2 separate regions of the Homo sapiens genome follow, and region 1 is linked to region 2. Evidence: fine-mapped QTL for protein levels in blood plasma. A gene starts in region 2. The other region holds a variant in brackets. All regions are shown on one strand. Distances are between the middles of the regions.

Evidence for each region. A credible set is the group of variants that fine-mapping cannot tell apart. PIP is the posterior inclusion probability: the model's chance that the variant is causal. Sun 2018 read protein levels with aptamers (SomaScan).
Region 1: its variant is the best candidate, but not a certain one, in a credible set for the plasma level of the GZMM protein (Sun 2018, PIP 0.90).

What each region holds. Positions count from the first base shown.
Region 1 is chr19:524,005-531,383 of GRCh38, forward strand. No RefSeq gene overlaps it. Among named protein-coding and RNA genes, the nearest start is that of CDC34, 4.1 kb to the right of the region's middle. RefSeq lists a silencer at 7,261-7,379. The variant GT/G (reference allele first, on the strand shown) is at 5,951.
Region 2 is chr19:537,816-554,122 of GRCh38, forward strand. GZMM (granzyme M) reads left to right here and starts at 6,238. Exons shown (of 5, transcript NM_005317.4): 1 at 6,238-6,311; 2 at 9,465-9,621; 3 at 10,727-10,862; 4 at 11,107-11,370; 5 at 11,815-12,107. The coding sequence starts at 6,257. The coding sequence ends at 11,976. CDC34 (cell division cycle 34, ubiquitin conjugating enzyme) reads left to right here. Exons shown (of 5, transcript NM_004359.2): 5 at 3,524-4,272. The coding sequence ends at 3,737. RefSeq lists an enhancer at 5,606-6,251.

The DNA.
Region 1 (7,379 bases), 18 kb before region 2:
AGGAGAGGCCCCTGTCCTCCCGAAGCCCACAGCCAGGCAGGCTGAGGTGGGCTTAAATCCTGGACACCCGGACAGGGACGCAGGGCACGGAGGCTTCCAGGAGTGACCAATCAGAGGACACCAAAGCTGGTCCCAGGGTGCACCTCACACTCCGCCCCGGTCCCTTGAGGCCAAGGCCGACCGAAGCCCACCTCCCCTGCCCCGCCCAGCTCCCCGGGGCCTCCCCTGATCCCTGACCCTGTGCCGCCCACTGTGCCCGCCCTCAGGTCCCGAGGACCCCGTCTGTCCTAATCCCGGCATGACCCTTACCAGCGCAGCCCGGAAGCTGACGCGTCCTCCCTGGCCTCACAGCAGCATAGAGCGCGGCAATCCCCTCTGGCAGCACCCACAGGCTCCTGCCCCACCCCACAGTCCCCCTTGGAAGCTTCCTCTCTCTCCCCAGCTCCTCTGGTGGCTTCATCCAGGGCCTCCCCTCCTCCCAACAGTCCTCTGCTGGCTCCCTGGGGACATCCCAAGCCTGACACATCCAAGACGGAGCTTCCGGCCGGCTCCCTGGACCCCGGGCTCCTCCAGAGTTTCTGGTCTCTGTGGAAGCCTCTCACCCGATCCACTGAGCACTGAGACCACGGCCAGACGCCTTCCCGGGCTCCACAGCGGCCCTCACCACACCTCATCCTGAGGCACCCTGCCTGCCCTCCCTTCACTGCCCCCGGCTGGTCCAGCCAACACCCTCGCCCACCTGGACCCCCAGCCCTTCACCGCCCCCGGCTGGTCCAGCCAACACCCTCGCCCACCTGGACCCCCAGCCCTTCACCACGCCCCCGGCTGGTCCAGCCAACACCCTCTCCCACCTGGACCCCCAGCCCTTCACCGCCCCCGGCTGGTCCAGCCAACACCCTCGCCCACCTGGACCCCCAGCCCTTCACCGCCCCCGGCTGGTCCAGCCAACACCCTCTCCCACCTGGACCCCCAGCCCTTCACCGCCCCCGGCTGGTCCAGCCAACACCCTCTCCCACCTGGACCCCCAGCCCTTCACCGCCCCCGGCTGGTCCAGCCAACACCCTCTCCCACCTGGACCCCCAGCCCTTCACCGCGCCCCCGGCTGGTCCAGCCAACACCCTCTCCCACCTGGACCCCCAGCCCTTCACCGCCCCCGGCTGGTCCAGCCAACACCCTCGCCCAAATGGACTCCCAGTCCCCACCAGCCAGTCAAAGCATCCCTCCCCCAGCCTCAGCGATGGGTTCAGAGAAACCCAGCTGGCCAGTGAGATGCAGCCGGGAGCTGTTTCCGGGAGCGCAGTGCTGGGCGGCTGGGTTGGGTGCATGGGCTAGACTTTGCAGCCCTCACCTCCGCCATGTCTGCGAATAAAGCCGGCACTCAGGACAGCTGAGCGGGAGGCTCCCCAGCGTCTTCTCACCTCTGTCCCGCACTCACCACCCAGACCCTGGGCCTCTAGCCAGTCGGGCTGTCCCCACCTCAGGGCCCCTGGACGTGCTGTTCCCTCTCCCTGCAGCACTGTTCCCGCAGACCTGCCTGCTGCTTCCCCACGCCACCTGGGTCTCTGCTTATATGTCACCTCCTGAGTCCAAGATGCCTTCCTACACCATCCCGGTGGCTCTCTAACCCCTGGCATTCTTTAGAAACTGCTTATTTATGTATTTATATGCTGGTTTGTGGCCTCTCTCCCTGTGAACCCAAGGGCAAGAAGTTTACTGCTTTTGTTCACTGCTCAATCCCCAGAACCTAGATTTACACATAGAAGAGAAGGAAGAGAAGGAGAGAGGGAAGGAGGGCAAGGGAAGGGAAGGGGAAGGGAATGGAAGGGAAGGGGAGTGGAGGGGAGGGGAGGGGAAAGGAGGGGAAAGGAGGGGAAAGGAGGGGAGGGGGATAGGAAGAGAGGGGAGGGGGATGGGAAGAGAGGGGAGGGGGAGGGGAAGGGAGCAGAGGGGAGGGGAGGAGGAGGGGAGGGGAAGGGAGGGGAAGGGAAGAGAGGGGGAGAGGAAGGGAGGGAAAGAAGGAAGCAATTTTCCCCTAGGAAGAAGCTGGAAGTCATTGAGGTGTGTTAATCCCTGTAGCTGTAGTAACAAATTTAGTGACTTAGCGTGGACGTACCATCTCACAGCTCTGGAAGGCAGAACTTCTAAAATCGAGGCATGAACAGGGCTGGTCCCTCCTGGGGGCTCCAGGGAGAACCTGTTTCCTCCTTTCCCAGAGTCCAGAGGCGCCCGCATCCCTCAGCTCCAGGCCCTTCCTCCCCCTTCACCTCCAAGAGCGCAACCTCTTCCAGTCTCTGACTCTCGGCGCCCGCCCCCCACCGCCCTCTTAAACGGACCCTGTGAGGACATGGGCCCCCATCACCCCGGATGCTCTGCCGTCTCAGGGTTCTTATCACACCTGTAGAGTCCCTTTTGCCACCTGAGGTGGTACAGCCACAGATTCTGGGGATCAGGATGTGGATGTCTTGGGGGCCTTATTCCCTCTTCCACGGTGAGGAACTGGCCCGGGACTGCACAGAGGAAAGCTGACCTGGAAGCCTGTTCTGATGCATCTGGAAGCACACGGGCCCCACAGCCTTTTGCGTTTTTCCCCTTTTTTTTTTTTTAGACAGGGTCTCGCTCTGTGGCTCAGGCTGGAGTGCAGTGGTAAAATCACAGCTCACTGCAGCCTCAAACTCCTGGGCTCAGGCGATCCTCCTGCCTCAGCCTCCCAAGTAGCTGGGACCACAGGTATGTACCATCACACCTGGCTGCTTAAGAAACATTTTTTTTTTTTTTTTTTTTTTTTTTTTTTTTTTTTTGTGGAGACGAGGTCTGGCCATGTTGCCCAACGCCCCACAGCTGCTGTGTCCTGGCTCCCTGTCCCTCTCCCCTGAGGACCATATCCTCCCACATGCACCCCTCTGCCTTCTGAGAACTGTCTTTCTTCCCTACAAGGCATGAGAGCAGCAAGATGCCATCGTGTAAGAGTCTCAGTGACATCTTGGGCTCCACAGGAAGACCTTTGTACAACTATCTTATCTAACCCACTTTCAAATTAAAAAACTGAAAGTCGGGCTGGGCGCGGTGGCTCATGCCTGTCATCCCAGCAGTTTCAGAGGCCGAGGCAGGCGGATCACCTGAGGTCAGGAGTTCGAGACCAGCCTGGCCAACATGGCGAAACCCCGTCACTACTAAAACTACAAAAATTAGCCGAGTATGGTGGCGCACCTGTAATCCCAGCTACTCGGGAGGCTGAGGCAGGAGAATTGCTTGAACCCAGGAGGCAGAGATTGCAATGAGCCAAGATCGTGTCACTGCACTCCAGCCTGGGCAACAGAGTGAGACTCTGTCTCAAAATAAAATAATAAAATAAAATAAAAAACTGAAACTCATAGGCCAGGCACGGTGGCTCATGTCTGTAATCCCAGCACTTTGGGAGGCCAAGGAGGGTGGATCACATGAGGTCAGGAGTTCCAGACCAGCCTGGCCAACATGGTGAAACCCCATCTCTACTAAAAATATAAAAATTAGCTGGCATGGTGGCACAAGTCACCCACTTGGGAGGCTGAGGCAGGAGGATCACTTGAACCCGGGAAGCAAAGGATGCAGTGAGAAGAGATGGAGCCACTGCGCTCCAGCCTGGGTGACAGAGCAAGACGCCATCTCAAAAAAAAAATAATTAAATAAATAAATTAATTAAATAAACCTGAGACTGGGTTTAATGTTTGAGCGATATTTCCAAGGTCGTGGCAGAAACTAGATTTGAATTTAAGGTTCTTCTCTGCCATGTGATGGAAAACCTAACTCAAACTGGCTTAATTAACGAAGAAGGAATTTATTTTTACTTATTTATTTATTTTTGAGATGGAGTTTCACTCTTGTTGCCCAGGCTGGAGTGCAATGGCGTGATCTTGACTCACCACAACCTCCGCCTCCCAGGTTCAAGCGATTCTTGGGCCTCACCCTCCCGAGCAGCTGGAATTATAGGCATGTGCCACCACGCCCGGCTAATTTTGTATTTTTAGTAGAGACAGGGTTTCTCCATGTTGGTCAGGCTGGTCTGGAACTCCTGACCTCAGGTGATCCACCCTCCTCGGCCTCCCAAAGTGCTGGGATTACAGGTGTGAGCCACGGCGCCCGGCACGAAGAAGGAATTTAACCTGGTTGTGGTGGTGTGCACGTGTGGTCCCAGCTACCTGGGAGGCTGAGGTGGGAGGACTGTTTGAGCCCAGGAGTTCAAGGCCAGCCTGAGCAACAGGAACGGGGGCAGGGAGGGAGGAAAGGAAAATAAACTAAAAAGGCTGGGCGTGGTGGCTCACGCCTGTAATTCCAGTACTTTAAGAGGCCAAGGCAGGAGGATCACTTGAGGCTGAGAGATCGAGACCAGCCTGGCCAACATGGTAAAACCCCATCTCTACTAAAAATTCAAAAATTAGCTGGGTGTGACAGTGCACGCTTGTGATCCTAGCTACTTCGGAGACAGGTGGGAGGATTGCTTAAGCCTGGGAGGCAGAGGTTGCAATGAGCTGAGATTGCGCCACTGGACTCCAGCTTGGGTGACACAGAGAGACTCCATCTCAACACAAACGAACTAAGAGGCAAGAATTCATGAGCTTGCATCATTGGAACATCCAGGGGAGGTCAGGTAACAGCATGATGCAGGATCACTAATAGGATTATCAACGTTTCCCCTCTCATCAGCCGGCTCGGCTTTCCTGTGATGCCGCCTTTGTTCGGAGGCCCCGTGGTGACACCATGACCCCGTAACTCCAGCCCCAGGTCCTTCCAGCTCAGCCACCCCAGCACTGTGATCCCAGAGAAATGTCCCAGAGCTGAATCTCATTGGACGTCAGGAGTCACATGCTTGTTCCTGAACCAATCATTGCAGCCCAGGGTGGGGGCCCTGGGAACTGATGGGATGGCCCCTCCCTGCAGCCAGGGCTTGCGTCAGTCCAATTCGAACCCGTTCCCACAGAGTAGGGAGCCCCCAAGCAGGCAGGTGGAAGCCCCTGGTGTCCACCGCTCCCGGGTGCTGTGAGCCTGAGCCTCCCTGGGGGTCGGGGCCCTGTGGGACCAGCTGGAGGGGCTTGAAAATCTCCCCAACCCAGGCCGGGCGCGGTGGCTCACGCCTGTAATCCCAACACTTTGGGAGGCCGAGGCGGGCGGATCACGAAGTCAGGAGATCAAGACCATCCTGGCTAACACGGTGAAACCGCTTCTCTACTAAAAATACAAAAAATTAGCAGGGCGTGGTGGCATGCGTCTGTAGTCCCAGCTACTCAGGAGGCTGAGGCAGGAGAATCACTTGAACCCGGGAGGTGGAGGTTGCAGGGAGCCAAGATCGTGCCACTGCACTCCAGCCTGGGCGACAGAGCAAGACTCCTTCTCAAAAAAAAAAAAAAAAAAAAAAAGCGAGAGAAAGAAAACCTCCCTCACCCACACAGTGCTTCCTGGGATGTGGGTGTACGGAAGAAGAGAGATCTTGGGAGCCCTTAGAGAAGGAATCGTGGTTAATTCTAATTAGCATTAATTTACCCATGAGCTGCTGCCTGCCGGCTCCATGATGCTGGCAATATATCCACGACCTGTGGCACGGAAGAGACTGAGGCTCACAAAACCCTGGGAACCTTGGTGAAGGGGCCACAGCCAGAAGGCCCCACTAGTCCCGAGACCCTCCTTTTACTCCAGGCCCCCAGGGTGCCGGGCAGAGGGGCCTGAGGGAGGAGGCCCAGAGGCCCTTACGGGTGAGGACGCCTCGGCCTCGGCCCTGGACAGCTCTGGAAGTGACCGCTCGGCCCAGAGCTCTTTCTTGGATCCCTCCCTCCCTCTCCACTCCTGATGCTGTTTTCCTTTCCCCAGACAGGTTTGCCTGCTGGTCCTCTTCCGGGGACCAGACTCATGAAGCCGGGGCCAGGTGTTGGGGCACCTGCGGGACAGAGTGGCCCTGGTCCCAGACTGGTTTTTGTTTTTG[GT/G]TTTTTTTTTTTTTGAGACGGAGTCTCTGTCGCCCAGGCTGGAGCGCAGTGGCGCTATCTAGACTCACTGCAAGCTCCGCCTCCCGGGCTCACGCCATTCTCCTGCCTCAGCCTCCCGAGTAGCTGGGACTACGGGCGCCCGCCACCACGCCCAGATAATTTTTTGTATTTTTAGTAGAGACGGGGTTTCACCATATTAGCCACAATGGTCTCGATCTCCTGACATTGTGATCCGCCCGCCTCGGCCCCCCAAAGTGTTGGGATCACAGGCGTGAGCCACCGTGCCCGGCCTGTATGTTGATGCAGCTGTGTGTACCCAGGGCATAGCAACAATGCCACTGGCACAGTCCGAGGGCAGGGCCACCCGTCACGGGCACGACTCAGGGGAGGCTGGGCTGCCCCGTCCTCACCACGGCCAGTTCTCCCGACCAAGCTTCACAGCAAGGAGCATGTGGGTGTCTGGGCAGCCACTGAGCCAGGTCAGAAGTCAGGTGGGGTCACAGTGATGCCCGGAATCAGCTGGGGTCAAGACTCAGGTGGGCTGGGCGCGGTGGCTCATGCCTATAATCCCAGCATTTGGGAGGCCGACGCAGACGGATCCCTTTATTAGTCCAAACTGCATCCTCCCCTTCCTTTCAAAACCTAACAACACACTTGAGGTCAGGGGTTCGAGACCAGCCTGGCCAACATGGTGAAACCCCATCTCTACTTAAAATACAAAATTAGCCGGACGTGGTGGCGGGCACCTGTAATCTCAGCTACTCGGGAGGCTGAGGCGGACACTAGCTTGAACCCGGGAGGCGGAGGTTGCAGTGAGATTGTGCCACTGCACTCCAGCCTGGGCCACAGAACGAGACTCTGTCTCATTTAAAAAAAAAAAAAAAAAAAAGACTCGGGTAGGACAAAGGTCAGGCTGGGAGGAGGGCACAGCCAGGCTCGGGCTCAGCTTGGGGTGGGGGCTCCGTGGGGCTGGCGCCTCTCCCGGGTCAGGTGCTGAGCCGATGCTGGCCGGCGTAGGCCTCTTTCCCAGTTTCTCTGGGGGGCAGGAGCACCTTGCCAACCTCTGATGGCTCCAGCGCCTGCACTCGCCTCACACCACATGGTGACTTCAACGGGGACCAGGGAAGCCCTCGCCCCTCCCACCCCTCAGAGCCCTCCCCGACCTCGCCCACTTCTCAGAGCTCCCGCTGTCGGGGGAACCGAGGCAGCGCCGCGCCTGGAAGCCAGGTCTGCGGATCCCGCCTCGCTCCCGCCCCTTCCTCCCTTCCGCGTGGCCAGCGCGACCCTAGGACAGACTTCGCGCCCGTCCCCTGCACAGACGGGGAAACGGAGACGGGGACGCGGGGTCGCGCCGGATGGACCGGCCCTGCCCCTCCGGTCCCGGTCAGGACCCCGCGCCGCGCCCCGTTCACCGCCCGCGGCCCCGCC
Region 2 (16,307 bases):
GAGCTAATTTTTGTAATTTTTAGTAGAGGTGGGATTTCACCATCTTAGCCAGGCTGGTCTCAAACTCCTGACCTCAGGTGATCCACCCGCCTCGGCCTCCCAAAGTGCTGGGATGACAGGCGTGAGCCACTGCACCTGGCCTGGTGGTTAGTGTTTTCATAGATTCTTCCAGGCTTTTCAGTTTAACGCATGTCTGTGCTTTAATGAAGAAATGGGGTCGTGCTGTGTGTGCCCAGTGACTGACTGTTAGGGAACATGTGTCTGTGCCTTAATGAAGAAATGGGGTCGTGCTGTGTGTGCCCAGTGACTGACTGTTAGGGAACATGTGTCTGTGCTTTAATGAAAAAATGGGGTCGTGCTGTGTGTGCCCAGTGACTGACTGTTAGTCAGGGGTGTTGGCCTTACTCATGTCTGGAGTGCGTCCCTGCAGGCTCTTGGCCTGGTGAGCTCTGGGTACAGCTGTGCAGTCGCCTACCGGCGCCTTCTGTACCTGCAGTCCACTTAGCTTGCGTGGCTGTGTGTGGTGACCCACGGCTCTCCCTCTCCTCCCATCGCCCTCATGCCCCAGAGCTGAGCCCCACAGCCCCTTCTCTTGGGTGCCTGTGTTCACATGAATGTGTAAACACGTGCGTGTCTGTGTACAAAGACAAGGCTTTCTTTACGGGTTGACGGCCTTAATGGTTCCTGCTCTTCCTGTTACATAGAGGCCCTTCCTATCCATTTTTTTTTTTTCTCAGAGTGATATTGCATAGATTTCCTCACAGAGGCCTCACCTATTTTTGTTGGTATTTTGTATAAACAGAATCTTAAAAACAACTTTTAAAATATTGCACACATAATGCATGTGTCTTCCTCGCCCCAGGACCCAGGAGCATCCAGGGCACCTTCCATCCTGCACTCGCTGGTACCTGGTGTCGTGGGGTCATCTCGGGGCAGCATCCTGGTGCTGGGCGGTCTCGGCTCTGAGCAGCCATGGTGGGCGGGCCCCGTGCGGCCTCCTGGGAAGTGGCCTGCAAGCACCTGCTGGCCTCTGGAGGTCACAGGGTAGCTGCCCTGGCCGTCCCTCTGGTGCAGATGTCCTCGGTGGCCCCGGTCCGGTCGTGTCACCTGGCCCAGGTGGCTGGCTCCTTGGCCCGGTTCTTCCCGGCCACCTCCCTGAGGCACCACCTCCTTGAGATCCCAGCACAGAAATAAAAGCCACACTATTTTTATCCCTCAAAACTCCCTGTGGGCCAACACACATGTGCCATGTGGACTCTGCTGTGGTCGCCGTTTCTGCCTGTTTTTTCATCTGTGTGCGTGTTGGCCTCGTGGCAGCCCAAGTCCCGCTGAGCTGTGTCGGGCAGGCTGCCGTGGAGCCCGGCTTGGTCAGGGATGTTGGTCTTGCTGAACAGGACCTCCAGACCGTCCTCCAGCTCATGCTGGCGGTGTGCCGGCGGCACCTCCACGGTGCAGGTCAGTTCCCACCCTGGCCCTCCCCTGCGTCTCCCCACAGCCGCCACCTCTGCGGTGCCGTCCCCGGGGCACCGTCACCCCCCCAGCCCGTCCACCCTGGCCCTCCCCTGCGTCTCCCCACTGCTGCCACCCGTGCAGTGCCGTCCCCGGGGCACTGTCAGTCACCCCCCCAGCCCATCGGAGAGCTTGGAAAGCAAAGCTTGGCGTCCGCTGGGTCCCGCCACCCAGGGACGTCCCTGAGGCCAGACGCCTGCCCTCCACGCGTCATGCATCCCCATAAAAAGCACTGGGCTTGTGGGCTGGGCTTGGGGCTGTCTGTCTGCTCCCTGGTGCCCTCCCATGCGGGCACTGTGGGACCCGCACACCCTGGTAGCAGCCAGCCCCAGAGCCCAGAGCCGTGCCTGGTCGGTGATAGGGGCTCGAGCCCATTGCCTGCGGCTGCAGCCTCGTTCCTGTTTTCTGTCAAATGGGGTCAGCGTGCCGCCTGGCCCTGCTGTGCCACCCCCGGAAGCCCCTTTGCTTCCAGTCCTGGGGGGACATTCTTGACGCGTGTCCTGGAGGTGGAGCCGGGGGCAGGTTCCTCGTAGGTCCTGGTGTGCGCGGTGCAGCCCCTCATAGGGCCGGGTGTACACGGTGCCCTCCAGGAAGTTTGAGCTAACTTGTCCTCCCTTCCTGCCAGAGGCTGGGATGGCCAGGCCCCCCAGGTTTAGAATCCGGAGGCCGGGGTGGCCAGGCCCCCAGGTTTAGAATCCGGAGGCCGGGGTGGCCAGGCCCCCCACGTTTAGAATCCGGAGGCCGGGGTGGCCAGGCCCCCCAGGTTTAGAATCCGGAGGCCGGGGTGGCCAGGCCCCCCACGTTTAGAATCCGGAGGCCGGGGTGGCCAGGCCCCCCGGGTTTAGAATCCGGAGGCCGGGGTGGCCAGGCCCCCCGGGTTTAGAATCCGGAGGCCGGGGTGGCCAGGCCCCCCGGGTTTAGAATCCGGAGGCCGGGGTGGCCAGGCCCCCCGGTTTAGAATCCGGAGGCCGGGGTGGCCAGGCCCCCCGGGTTTAGAATCCGGAGGCCGGGGTGGCCAGGCCCCCCGGGTTTAGAATCCGGAGGCCGGGGTGGCCAGGCCCCCCGGGTTTAGAATCCGGAGGCCGGGGTGGCCAGGCCCCCCGGGTTTAGAATCCGGAGGCCGGGGTGGCCAGGCCCCCCGGGTTTAGAATCCGGAGGCCGGGGTGGCCAGGCCCCCCGGGTTTAGAATCCGGAGGCCGGGGTGGCCAGGCCCCCCGGGTTTAGAATCCGGAGGCCGGGGTGGCCAGGCCCCCCGGGTTTAGAATCCGGAGGCCGGGGTGGCCAGGCCCCCCGGGTTTAGAATCCGGAGGCCGGGGTGGCCAGGCCCCCCGGGTTTAGAATCCGGAGGCCGGGGTGGCCAGGCCCCCCACGTTTAGAATCCGGAGGCCGGGGTGGCCAGGCCCCCGGGTTTAGAATCCGGAGGCTGGGATGGCCAGGCCCCCGGGTTTAGAATCCAGAGGCTGGGATGGCCAGGCCCCCCGGTTTAGAATCCGGAGGCCGGGGTGGCCAGGCCCCCGGGTTTAGAATCCTGCTGAGGCCACGGAGAGGCTCAGGCCGTTTTTGCGTTTCCCATCTCACCTGTGCTGGTTCCCGTCTCCAGGGATGGTCCTGCCTCCTGTCCTTGGGCCCTCCCAGCTGCTTCCTTTGCTCCTGCGCTGAGGAAGGCTTTTGCCCCCCAGTGGGGCAGCATGGGCCCTCCCTGTTGCCGGCATCGTTATTTTCTCCCAGCTCCTGATGGGTCCCTTGGGTTGTGCTTCGGGGCGGGGCAGGCGGGTGTGACTGCACTGCGCCCGTCCAGCCTCCCACCCGCACCTCCTGCCCTTCCCGAGCCCCCTCCTCTGTCATTTCTCCCCCTGGAGTTCCTCACGCACAGGGCTTTGTCCTAAGTGGTCGCCACACGCCGTTTTAAGAGAAACCTGAGCGTTGGGGTGAGCGTCGGACCTGGGGGAGGGGGGCCGGGCAGGGGCCGAGTCCAGGCACGTGGGTGGCGCCCTCACCCACCCTGTCCCCCCAGGAAGCAGGTCCTGGGGACCAAGGTGGACGCGGAGCGTGACGGCGTGAAGGTGCCCACCACGCTGGCCGAGTACTGCGTGAAGACCAAGGCGCCGGCGCCCGACGAGGGCTCAGACCTCTTCTACGACGACTACTACGAGGACGGCGAGGTGGAGGAGGAGGCCGACAGCTGCTTCGGGGACGATGAGGATGACTCTGGCACGGAGGAGTCCTGACACCACCAGAATAAACTTGCCGAGTTTACCTCACTAGGGCCGGACCCGTGGCTCCTTAGACGACAGACTACCTCACGGAGGTTTTGTGCTGGTCCCCGTCTCCTCTGGTTGTTTCGTTTTGGCTTTTTCTCCCTCCCCATGTCTGTTCTGGGTTTTCACGTGCTTCAGAGAAGAGGGGCTGCCCCACCGCCACTCACGTCACTCGGGGCTCGGTGGACGGGCCCAGGGTGGGAGCGGCCGGCCCACCTGTCCCCTCGGGAGGGGAGCTGAGCCCGACTTCTACCGGGGTCCCCCAGCTTCCGGACTGGCCGCACCCCGGAGGAGCCACGGGGGCGCTGCTGGGAACGTGGGCGGGGGGCCGTTTCCTGACACTACCAGCCTGGGAGGCCCAGGTGTAGCGGTCCGAGGGGCCCGGTCCTGCCTGTCAGCTCCAGGTCCTGGAGCCACGTCCAGCACAGAGTGGACGGATTCACCGTGGCCGACTCTTTTCCCTGCTTTGGTTTGTTTGAAATCTAAATAAAACTACTTTATGAGAGGCCAGAGAAGCTGTGCTTGGGAGGGAGAGGCAGCCTCCACGTCCATGAGTGACTGCACACGGCCAGTCCCACTGGGACCCTGGCTACGCCAGGTGTGGATCTGGGAGGCCTGTCCTGGGAGGCACGGGGAGCAGCCGGGTCCCGCGGCCTGTACGTTCCCATGACTTGGGTCAGACAGGCCTGGGCAGCATCCCCCAGCCTGCGGGACAGGGGCGGCCAGAAAGCCCCCAGAGTTCCTCCTCCCTGTGACCAGGTGCATCTAGTGGGACGGGAGCTGCCTCTGCAGGCATCCAGCAAAGCTTCGTCGCGGGTCCACAGCCGCCTGGGCGTTGATCTCAGCGTCTCAGGGCTCCCAGGACCACAGATGCCCCCGATCAGCACTCCGGCGGCTCCAGCTCCGTCCAGGCACACCCTCGGGGTGGGGAGCCGTGGCCCTGGGCACACAGGGCAGGCACCTCACGTCCTGGTGTCAGGAAGTCCCCAGCATCGTTTTATTACATGTCATGGAGGAAAGCTCGGAGCTCCCATGCCCTCCCGGGGCACCGCCTTCCAGGAACCTGCCTGCGTTCCGCTTCTGGGCACCCGGAAAGTCGCTCAGTGGCTGATTCAGGGTCGAGGAGCTGTGAGGATGAGGTTTCCCACCAAGTTGGGACAGAAAATGGGGCCCTGGGGTCTCAGCAAACCATGGCCCTCGGGACCAAACCTGGCGTCCGCCCCTATTGTGAGTGAAGTGTTACTGGCACAGCCACACCCAGGTCTCAGGATCATCCATAGCTGCTTGGTTTGGTTTGGTTTTGTTTTTGAGACACAGTCTTGTGTTGCCCAGGCTGGAGTGCAGTGGTGCGATCTCGCCTCCTGGGTTCAAGTGATTCTCCTGCCTCAGCCTCCTGAGTAGCTGGGACTACAGGCTCCCACCACCATGCCCAGCTGATTTTTGTATTTTTAGTAGAGATGGGGTTTCACCATGTTGGCCAGGATGGTCTCGAACTCCCAACCTCAGGTGATCGCCCGCCTCGGCCTCCCAAAGTGCTGGGATTACAGGCGTGAGCCGCCGCGCCCGGCCTAAATTTATTTATTTTTGAGACAGGGTCTTGCTCTGTCACCCAGGCTGAAGAGCAGTGGTGCAATTACGGCTCACTGCAGCCCCAACCTGGGCTCAAGCGATCCTCCTGCCCCAGTCTCTCAAAGTGCTGGGATTACAGGTGTGAGCCACCGCCTTCGGCCAGTGTCTTTATTCATGAAGACCAAAAACTAGAACAGCGCAAATATCCGTCCGCTGGTGAATGCATAAACACAGCGTGGTCCAGCCACACAATGGGATGTGACACAGCCACAAAAAGGAGCGAGGCTCTGACACAGGCCACAGCCTGGATGCACCTTGAGGACGTCATGCTGGGAGAGACGCCAACGCAACAGGTCCTGTGTGATTCCACTCCTGGGAGGTCCCTAGAGACCAATTCAGAGGCAGGAAGTAGTGGCCGGGCGCGGTGGCTCATGCCTGTAATCCCAGCACTGGGAGGCCGAGGTGGGTGGATCACCTGAGGTCGGGAGTTTGAGACCAGCCTGGTCAACATGGTGAAACCTCGTCTCTACTAAGAATACGAAAATTAGCCGGGCGTGGTGGTGGGCACCTGTAGTCCCACTACTCGGGAGGCTGAGGCCGGAGTATGGCGTGAACCCGGGAGGCGGAGCTTGCAGTGAGCCGAGATCGCACCACCGCACTCCAGCCTGGGCGACAGAGCGAGACTCCATCTCTGAAAAAAAAAAAAAAAAAAAAGTGTTACTTTGTCAGGTGTGATGATGGTAGTGTGGCTTCATCTCGAGTCCTCTTTGAGAAACACTTTCTAAAATGCTCAAGGATGGAGGGTGGAGGGTGTGCAGCGGTGGGCGGGGCTGTGACCGTCACCTCACCTCCCCCACAGGAAGCGCGTGTGGGGAGGCTCGGGGCCGGGGCCAGCACCCACACTGGGTCTCCACAGCGGCATGGAGGCCTGCGTGTCTTCACTGCTGGTGCTGGCCCTGGGGGCCCTGTCAGTAGGTGAGTGGGAGCCGGGATGCAGGGGGGACACTGAGGCCCAGCGCTCTCGGTGGGTCCCTGGATGGGAGGGGTGGGCGCGGGCGCCGACATCCTGGGTGTAAGAGCGGAGATTCATCCTTGTTTGGAGGGGGACTGAGGCCTGGGGCATCCCGAGCTCCTCACGCTTCACCCCGAGTGGACATCCCGGGACCGTGGGAGAGTGTGGTGTCCACCGGCTCACCTCGCCCATCCTCCCGGCAGCAGCCAGAAGGCAGGGGTCACGCTCACACCCGAGGTGCAGAGTAGGAGACTGAGACTTGGCGAAGGAGATGCTGACCTAGGACTGCCCAGCTGGGAGGGCAGAGCTGGGACTCGATCCCCGCTGGCTGCCTGCCACCACCAAGGGCTTGGCTGGGACTAGGTGCCCAGCAGTGAGGGAGAAGGGAGGTGGGTGGCGGCTCCCCTGCATTCCAGCTGGACTGAGTGACAGGGGCTCTTGATGAGTTGGGGACCCAAGAAGATGGACAGAGGTAGGAATCCAGCCGTCAGTCATCATCATCCTTCCTCCCATTTTTATTTCCTTCCACCCATGGGTCCATCATCCCTCCCTCCCTCCCTCCCTCCCTCCCTCATCTCCCCTTCCTTCCCTCTACCCGTCCGTCCACCCATCATTCCTCCTTCCATTCTTCCACCCACCCATCCATCATCCATCCCTCTACCCATGGGTCCATCATCCATCCCTCCCTCCCTCCTTTCGTTCCCCCTTCCTTCCCTCCGCCAGTCCATCCACCCATCATTCCTCCTTCCTCCCATTCTTCCACCCACCCGTCCATCCATCATCCATCCCTCCTTTCAACCTCCCTCCTTCCCTCCACCCGTCATCCTTCCCTCCCTCCTTCCATGTATCCACCCATCCATCCATCATGCCTCTCTCTTCCTTTCCCCCCTCCTTCCCTCCTCCCTCCCATCCATCCATCATCCATTCCTCCTTCCATCCCTCCTTCCTTTCTCCCGTGCTTCTGTGTATCCATCCGTATTTGCAGGGCTCGTGCTGTTCTAGGCCTGCCCTCCTGTCTGACTGGAAGAGACAGGCCAGGCATGAGACTGTGCAGAGCGGAGGAAACACGGAGGGCAAGAGGGCGGGTGGGGGGCCGTTGCAGGAGACGAGCATAAACCAAGGGAGGAAGCCGGTGGGGGAAAGGTACGCAGGCAGCTAAGTGAGACAGACAAAGGCCCAGGGTGCAGGCAGCTTGCAGGCACAGCTAGACTTGCACTCTTGTCACCCAGGCTGGAGTGCGATGGTGCCATCTCGGCTCACTGCAGCCTCCGCCTCCTGGTTTCAAGCGATTCTCCTGCCTCAGCCTCCCGAGTAGCTGGGATTACAGGCGCCTGCCACCATGCCGGGCTAATTTTGTATTTTTAGTAGAGACAGGGTTTCCCCGTGTTGGTCAGGCTGGTCTCAAACTCCCAACCTCAGGTGATCCGCCTGCCTCGGCCTCCCAAAGCGCTGGGATTACAGGCGTGAGCCACCGCGCCCGGCCTATTTTTTTTTTTTAAGATGGAGTTCTGCTATTCTTGCCCAGGCTGGAGTGCAATGGCACGATCTCGGCTCACCACAACCTCTGCCTCCCGGGTTCAAGCGATTCTCCTGTCTCAGCCTCCCAAGTAGCTGAGATTACAGATGCCCGCCACCTCGCCCGGCTAATTTTTTGTATTTTTAGTAGAGACGGGGTTTCACCGTGTTAGCCAGGATGGTCTCGATCTCCTGACCTCGTGATCCACCTGCCTCGGCCTCCCAAAGTGCTGGGATTACAGGCGTGAGCCACCGCACCCGGCCTTAATTTCTGTATTTTTAGTACAGACGGGGTTTTACCACATTGGCCAGGCTGATCTCCAACTCCTGACCTCAGGCTGTCTGCCCACCTTGACCTCCCAAAGTGCTGGGATTATAGGCGTGAGCCACTGCACCGGCCCGCAAGCGGGGACTTGATTTTCAAAGCATGATGGGGATTCAGAGAAGATTTTGAGCTGATTTACGTTACATTATGAAATCAATCCTTTTATATTTATGATTGATTTAAAATAATTTTTGTACAGCTTTATTAGGAAATTATGCACTATACAATTTACTTATTTAAAGACTACATTTCTTGCTGGGCACAGTGGCTCACGCCTGTCATCCCAGCACTTTGGGAGGCCAAGGAGGGTGGATCACCTGAGGTTAGGTGTTTGAGGCCAGCCTGGCCAACACGGCGAAACCCTGTCGCTACTAAAAATACAAAAAAATTAGCCGGACGTGGTGATGCGCTTCTGTAATCCCAGCTACTCGGGAGGCTGAGGCAGGAGAATCGCTTGAACCCAGGAGGCAGAGGTTGCAGTGAGCTGAGATCACGGCACTGCATTCCAGGCTGGGTAACAGAGTGAGACTCCATCTCAAAAAAAAAAAAAAAATGGCCAGGTGCAGTGGCTCATACCTGTAATCCCAGCACTTTGGGAGGCTGAGATGGGTGGATCACAAGGTCAGGAGTTCGAGACCAGCCTGGCTAACATGGTGAAACCCCATCTGTACTAAAAATACAAAAATTATCCAGGCGTGGTGGCAGGTGCCTGTAGTCCCAGCTACTCGGGAGACTGAGTCAGGAGAATGGCATGAACCCAGGAGGCGGAGCTTGCAGTGAGCCGAGATCGTGCCATTGCACTCCAGCCTGGGTGACAGAGCGAGACTCTGTCTCAAAAAAAAAGAAAAAAAAAGTTTTTTTTAAGAGACTGGGTCTTGCTGTGTCGCCCAGGCTGGTCTCGAACTCCTGGCCTCAAGTGATCCTCCCTCCTCAGCCTCCCGAAGTGCTGGGATCACAGGGGTGAGCCACCCACATCCGGCCTGATGTGCGTTTTGAAGGACTCCTGTGGCTGTGGGGCCCAGTGGGGCCTGGGGAGGTCCTGGAGAGGGGATTGGGAGGTGGCCTGGGGGGAACATGATGGGGGTGATGAGAGGGGGATGGGAGGGATGAAGGGCAGCCCACACGTATCAGCCTAAAAGTTTCGGGGAACACTGGGGACTTCATTAGGATGGCACATCTGCTTGGGGTCCTGGGCCTCTGAGCTGGGCAAGGACAGTCGCAGCAGGCAGCAGGGGCATGTAGCCCCAACCTGGCTCTTTGTCCCCCATCCTGGCAGGCAGCTCCTTTGGGACCCAGATCATCGGGGGCCGGGAGGTGATCCCCCACTCGCGCCCGTACATGGCCTCACTGCAGAGAAATGGCTCCCACCTGTGCGGGGGTGTCCTGGTGCACCCAAAGTGGGTGCTGACGGCTGCCCACTGCCTGGCCCAGCGGTGAGTACCCTGCCCTGCCCACCCCAGGGGTCCGGGGAATCCATCCGACGGCGCCCATTCTCTGCAGGGGGTGGGCTCTGGGAGATTTAGGCCCATTGTGGGACCCCCGTCCCCTCCCGGTGACGACTTAGGCAGGTTTAAGTGACCTGCGGCTGTGGGACTCCTGGAGAAGGTTTACTCCTTGCAAGAGGCACTGGCAGGGCCAGCTCCTTCCACACCGCAGCCTGGGTCAGAGCCTGGCTCCTTTCACGGCTGAGCCACAGTCCTGGTGTGGACAGAGTGCATTGTGTCTGTCCATTCACCTGCTGATGGACCCAACTTAGGCGGGGGCTTCTGCTATAAGGAAGGAGGGTCAGGTGGGGGTGTTTGCCACCTGTGGCCAGGAGGTCGAAGCCGGCCTTCGAGAGTGGCTCGGGAATCGACCTGGTTCCCGGGGATCAGGAAGCCGCTAAATGACCCATCATGGAGTTGCCCTACCTCAGGACTGGTCCGTCATACAGAGCCCAGATCAAGATGGTCAAAGTAACAAAAAGGGATCTGCCGGCTTGTGTAACTGCAAAGTCTAGGAGGAGGCCTGGCTTCAGGTGCGGCTTGATCCAGGTGCTCACAGGAGGCGCTGTGGAGCCCATCTGTCTCCCAGCTCTGCTGCACTACCAGGAAGCCTGTCTCACAAGGTGGAAAGATTGACCCTCCTCAGTCCCATGGAAAGAGGGCTTGGCTCTCTAAAGTTGGGGCACACTTAGGAGGATTGGCATGTGTCAACCCCTGTACAAATCACTGTGGTTGAGCCTGGGGCCCCAAGTGAAGGGAATTCCCAGGGCTGGTTTTCGTGAAGCTGTAGGCTTGGGGTTGGATTTTTGGACACACAGCCCTTGCCTGGGGCCAGGGCCGGGCAGAAGTCTGGGGCAGGGGTGAGAGCAGGGAGGGCTTCCTGGAGGAGGTGGGTTGCAAAGACACAGGGAAGGACTGGCCAAGCCAAGGCCTGTGAGGGGCAGCGGCTGTGAGTGATGGCCATGGACAACGGGCACAGTGGGGGCCGGGACTGCATGTGGCGGGTCGTCCACGCCGGGCCAGGCCGCAGCACCCTGATTCCCTCTGTCCCCAGGATGGCCCAGCTGAGGCTGGTGCTGGGGCTCCACACCCTGGACAGCCCCGGTCTCACCTTCCACATCAAGGCAGCCATCCAGCACCCTCGCTACAAGCCCGTCCCTGCCCTGGAGAACGACCTCGCGCTGCTTCAGGTGTGCAGGGACGGGACAGGGAGAACTGGGCACCCTCCTGTCCCCCACGGGTGCCCCTCACCCCCACTGCGCCCTCCCCCCGCTGCCGACCCTCCCCCCGCACTGCTGCCCCTCCCCCCGCACTACTGCCCCCTCCCCCATTGCCCACCCTCCCCCCACTGCCACCCCTCCCCCCGCTGCCGCCCCCCGCCCCCGCACTCTCACCCCCTCCCCCTGCTCACCTGCCCCTTCCTGTCACTCGTAGCTGGACGGGAAAGTGAAGCCCAGCCGGACCATCCGGCCGTTGGCCCTGCCCAGTAAGCGCCAGGTGGTGGCAGCAGGGACTCGGTGCAGCATGGCCGGCTGGGGGCTGACCCACCAGGGCGGGCGCCTGTCCCGGGTGCTGCGGGAGCTGGACCTCCAAGTGCTGGACACCCGCATGTGTAACAACAGCCGCTTCTGGAACGGCAGCCTCTCCCCCAGCATGGTCTGCCTGGCGGCCGACTCCAAGGACCAGGCTCCCTGCAAGGTGAGGGGCGCCCGGGTGGGGCTGGGGGAATGAGGCTGGCGGGAGGGCCGGGGCCAGGGCAGCCGCCGGGCAGGTTCCTGGCTCTCCCGTTCTCTGGGGAGTCCTGTCAGGGGCTGGGGGGCGGGGAAGCACTGGCAGGGGTCCCGTTTCTCAGGTGCAGAAACTGAGGCTCAGACAGGTTTAGCAACCTGCGCAAGACCACACAGCCGGGAAGCGGCAGAGCTGTGACTTCTGCTCCAGCCAAGACGGTCCGGCGGGGGAAGAAGGAGCAGGGTTCACAGGGCCAGCGGGAGATGGGGAGGGGACACGCGTGGGCCGGGAGCAGCCCCTGTGTCTCCTTGAGCCTGGGGATAACAGGCCTGGCCCTGCTCCCCTCGGCGGGCCCTGCTCCCCTCGTCCCCTCAGCAGGTGCAGAGGCTGAGCTGCGGTGTGTCGTCCCTGCAGGGTGACTCGGGCGGGCCCCTGGTGTGTGGCAAAGGCCGGGTGTTGGCCAGAGTCCTGTCCTTCAGCTCCAGGGTCTGCACTGACATCTTCAAGCCTCCCGTGGCCACCGCTGTGGCGCCTTACGTGTCCTGGATCAGGAAGGTCACCGGCCGATCGGCCTGATGCCCTGGGGTGATGGGGACCCCCTCGCTGTCTCCACAGGACCCTTCCCCTCCAGGGGTGCAGTGGGGTGGGTGAGGACGGGTGGGAGGGACAGGGAGGGACCAATAAATCATAATGAAGAAACGCTCAGAGCCCGCCTGAGTCCCAGCCCACCTCTGTCCATGCTGGCTGTGGGGCTTCCGACAAACCTGTTTCCCTCAGCCTCCCGAGTAACTGGGTCTACAGGCGCCCGCCACCACGCCAGGCTAACTTTTGGTATTTTTAGTAGAGAAGGGGTTTCTCCATGTTTGTCAGGCTGGTCTCCAACTCTTGACCTTGTGATCTGCCCACCTCGGCCTCCCAAAGTGCTGGGATTACAGGCGTGAGCCACCGCGCCCGGCCCTTCCCTGTTTTAAAAAGGGAGGTTGTGGATCCCAAGGCTTCTCCCAGGAGGGGGCGGCGTTGGCCAGGACTGGAGCGGTGGCCGGGTCTGCAGGCTGGCAGGGGTGGGCGGCCGTCCTCCCCGCGTGGCTCCTGGGGCTGGGCCTTGAACAGCATCCCAGGATCTTCTTTTTTAGTAACAGCTTTTATCAAGTTACAACTCACATAGCAGATGAGTCTCCCTGTAAACTGCGATTCAGGGGCCTTTGGTACCTGCACAGAGCTGGGCAACCACCACCGTGACATGTCACCCCAGCACCCCGAAAACAGGCCCGTCCCCAGTCACCCCAGCACCCCGAAAACAGGCCCGTCCCCAGTCACCCCAGCACCCCGAAAACAGGCCCGTCCCCAGTCACCCCAGCACCCCGAAAACAGGCCCGTCCCCAGTCACCCCAGCACCCCGAAAACAGGCCTGTCCCCTGTCACCCCAGCACCCTGAAAACAGTCCTGTCACCCCAGCACCCCGAAAACAGCCCTGTCCCCACTGTCACCCCAGCACCCCGAAAACAGGCCTGTCCCCACTGTCACCCCAGCACCCCGAAAACAGGCCCGTCCCCACTGTCACCCCAGCACCCCGAAAACAGGCCTGTCACCCCAGCACCCCGAAAACAGGCCTGTCCCCCTGTCACCCCAGCACCCCGAAAACAGGCCTGTCCCCACTGTCACCCCAGCACCCCGAAAACAGCCCTGTCCCCACTGTCACCCCAGCACCCCGAAAACAGGCCCGTCCCCACTGTCATCCCAGCAGCCCGAAAACAGGCCTGTCCCCACTGTCACCCCAGCAGCCCGAAAACAGGCCCCATCTCTATCACCCCAGCACCCCAAAAGGAAGCCCCACCCCCATTGTCATTCCAGCACCCCGAAAATAGACTCTGTCCCCACTGTCACCCCAGCACCCCAAAAGGAGGCTCGTCCCCATCGGCCGTCACTCCCCGTCCCCACCCCAGCCCCGGTGCCCTCACATCCCCTCCCTGTCTCTGGATGGGCCTGTGCTGACATTTCATGGACAGGGGATCACGCTGCGTGGCCTTCTGTGTCTGGCGTCTCCCGCTGAGCGTGACGTCCTCAAGCTGCACCCGCGCGCTGGCTGGGTCCGAGCCGTGCTCCTGCTCCGGGGGGTCGAGCTCCAGCTCGAGGGGGGCCTCGCTGCGTTTGTGGGTGCGTCCCTGGGTGCACATCTGGGCGGCTTCGTCTGCGTCCGTCCGTCTGAAGCTTTGCTGGGAGCCGCCTGTGTGCGTTTTCGTGTGGACCTACCTGCTCCTTCCTCCCTCCAGATTAGACCCGTGGGAGTGGCATCTCGGGCTGTTCAGTGACTCTGTTTCAGCGCCGCGCTGTTTTCCTGCAGAATCTTTTAATTTCACTACCAACTCTTTCTTTCTTTTCTTTTCTTTCTTCCCTTTCTTCCCCTTCTTCTCTTTCCCTCCCTTCCCCTTCTTCTCTTTCCCTCCCTTCCCCTTCTCTCCCCTCCCCTCCCCTCCTCTCTCTTTCTTTCTTTCCTTTCTTTCCTTTCTTCCCCGTCTCCCCTTCCCCTCCCCTCCCCTCTCCTCCCCTCCCCTCTCCTCCCCTCCTCTCTTTCTTTCTTTCTTTCTTTCTTTTCTTTTCTTTTTTTCTTTTATTTTCCTTTCTTTTCTTCTGATGGAGTCTCAGTGCGTCACCCGGGCTGGAGTGCAGTGGCACGATCTCGGCTCACTGCAAGCCATCTCAGGTTCAAGCGATGCTTGTGTCTCAGCCACCTGAGTAGCTGAGGGATCACAGACGTGCACCACCACGCCCAGCTAACTTTTTTTGTATTTTTAGTAGAGACTAATAGAAACACAGGTTTCACCACGTTGACCAGGCTGGTCTTGAACTCCTGACCTCAGGTGACCCGCCCACCTCGCCCTCCCAAAGTGCTGGGATTACAGGCATGAGCCACTGTGCCCACGTTAATGGTTTTTTATTATTTTATTTTATTTTTAGACAGTTCCCACTCTGTTGCCCAGGCTGGAGTGCAGCCTCAGCCTCCCAAGTAGCTGGAATCATAGGGGTCCACCACCAAGCCCAGCTAATTTTTTTGGATTTTTACTAGAGACGGGGTTTCACCATATTGGTCAGGCTGGTCTCGAACTCCTGACCTCAAATAATCCACCCGCCTCGGCTTCCCAAAGTGCTGGGATTACAGGTATGAGCCACTGTGCCCGGCCGGGTTAGTGTTGTAATAGACTTAATTTTTAAAACCATTTTTGGTCTGCAGGAGATGTGTGGCGGCTGTATCCACAGGGTCCCCCGCGTCCCCGCCCCCAGGCTCCTGGCCGCTCCCCTCTCCAGTCAGCAGGAGTCACGGCTGACGAACTCACATGAATGCGTGATTAACTACTAAGGACCTACTCTTGGCTCGGATTTCCTCAGTTTCCCCTAATGTCTCTTCCTGCACAGGGTCCCACCCGGGACCGAACCTGCCGTTTCGCCGCAGCCTCTCCTCGGCACCCCCAGGCTCCGACCGTTTCTCAGAACTCCGTGTCTGGAGGCCGGCTGGACGGGATTTATGTAGATTACGGGTGTGGACCACTGCACCCGCCAGCTATCTCATGTTTTTCTCTCGATTGGACTGGAGTCACAGTGTTTTTGGGAGAGGCAAGTGCATTTTTAATCTTTAACTTTTTTAATTTTTTTATGTTATTTTTTTAGAGACTCCTGGGCTCCAGCAATCCTCCCACCTCAGCCTCCTAAAGGATTACAGGTGTGAGCCACCGCGCCCGGCCTAATCTTTAACTTTTTATGGCATCATTGGCAGTGGAAGGTTCTCAGGTCACAAGTGAAGAGCCTCATAACTCACAAACCAGGCACGCCCCTGTTCCCGGCACCTGGGTCCAGACACAACCCCCTGCCCCGAAGCCCCTCCTTAGCCAAGTACCCAAGTCCAGTCTCTTTTTTTTTTTTTTGAGATTCGAGTCTCGCTCTGTCCCCCAGGCTGGAGTGCAGTGGTGCAATCTCGGCTCACTGCAAGCTCCACCTCCTGGGTTCACGCCATTCTCCTGCCTCAGCCTCCCCAGTAGCTGGGACTACAGGCGCCCGCCACCACGCCTGGCTAATTTTTTAAATATTTTTAGTAGAGACGGGGTTTCACGGTGTTAGCCAGGATGGTCTCGATCTCCTGACCTCGTGATCCACCCACCTCGGCCTCCCAAAGTGCTGGGATTACAGGCATGAGCCACTGCGCCCCGCCCCAAGTCCAGTCTCTAACCCCAGAGATGGGCCCTGCCTGTTTGGGTTCTTTTTTTGTTTTTTGTTTTTGTTTTTGTTTTGACACGGAGTCTCGCTCTGTCGCCCAGGCTGGAGTGCAGTGGTGCAATCTCGGCTCACTGCAACCTCCGCCTCCTGGGTTCAAGCAATCCTCCTGCCTCAACCTCCCGAGTAGCTGGGACTATAGGCACGCGCCACCACGCCCGGCTAATTTTTGTATTTTTAGTAGAGACGGGGTTTCACCAGATTGGCCAGGCTGGTCTTGAACTCCTGACCTCATGATCCGCCAGCCTTGGTCTCCCAAAGTACTGGGATGACAGGGGTGAGGCACCACGCCCAGCCCCTTTGGGTTTTTAAATTGTTCATTCATGGCCAGGCATGGTGGCTCGCGCCGGTAATCCCAGCACATCGGGAGGCTGAGGCGGGCGGATCACGAGGTCAGGAGTTCAAGATCGGCCTGGCCAACATGGTGAAACCCTGTCTCTACGAAAATTACAAAAAAAATTAGCTGGGCATGGTGGTGGGCACCTATAATCCCAGCTACTTGGGAGGCTGAGGCAGGAGAATCACTTCAAGCCGGGAAAGGGAGGTTGCAGGGAGCTGAGATCACACCACTGCACTCTAGCCTGGGCGACAAGAGCGAGACTCCGTCTCAGAAAAAAAAAAACAAAAAAACCATAAATAAAAAA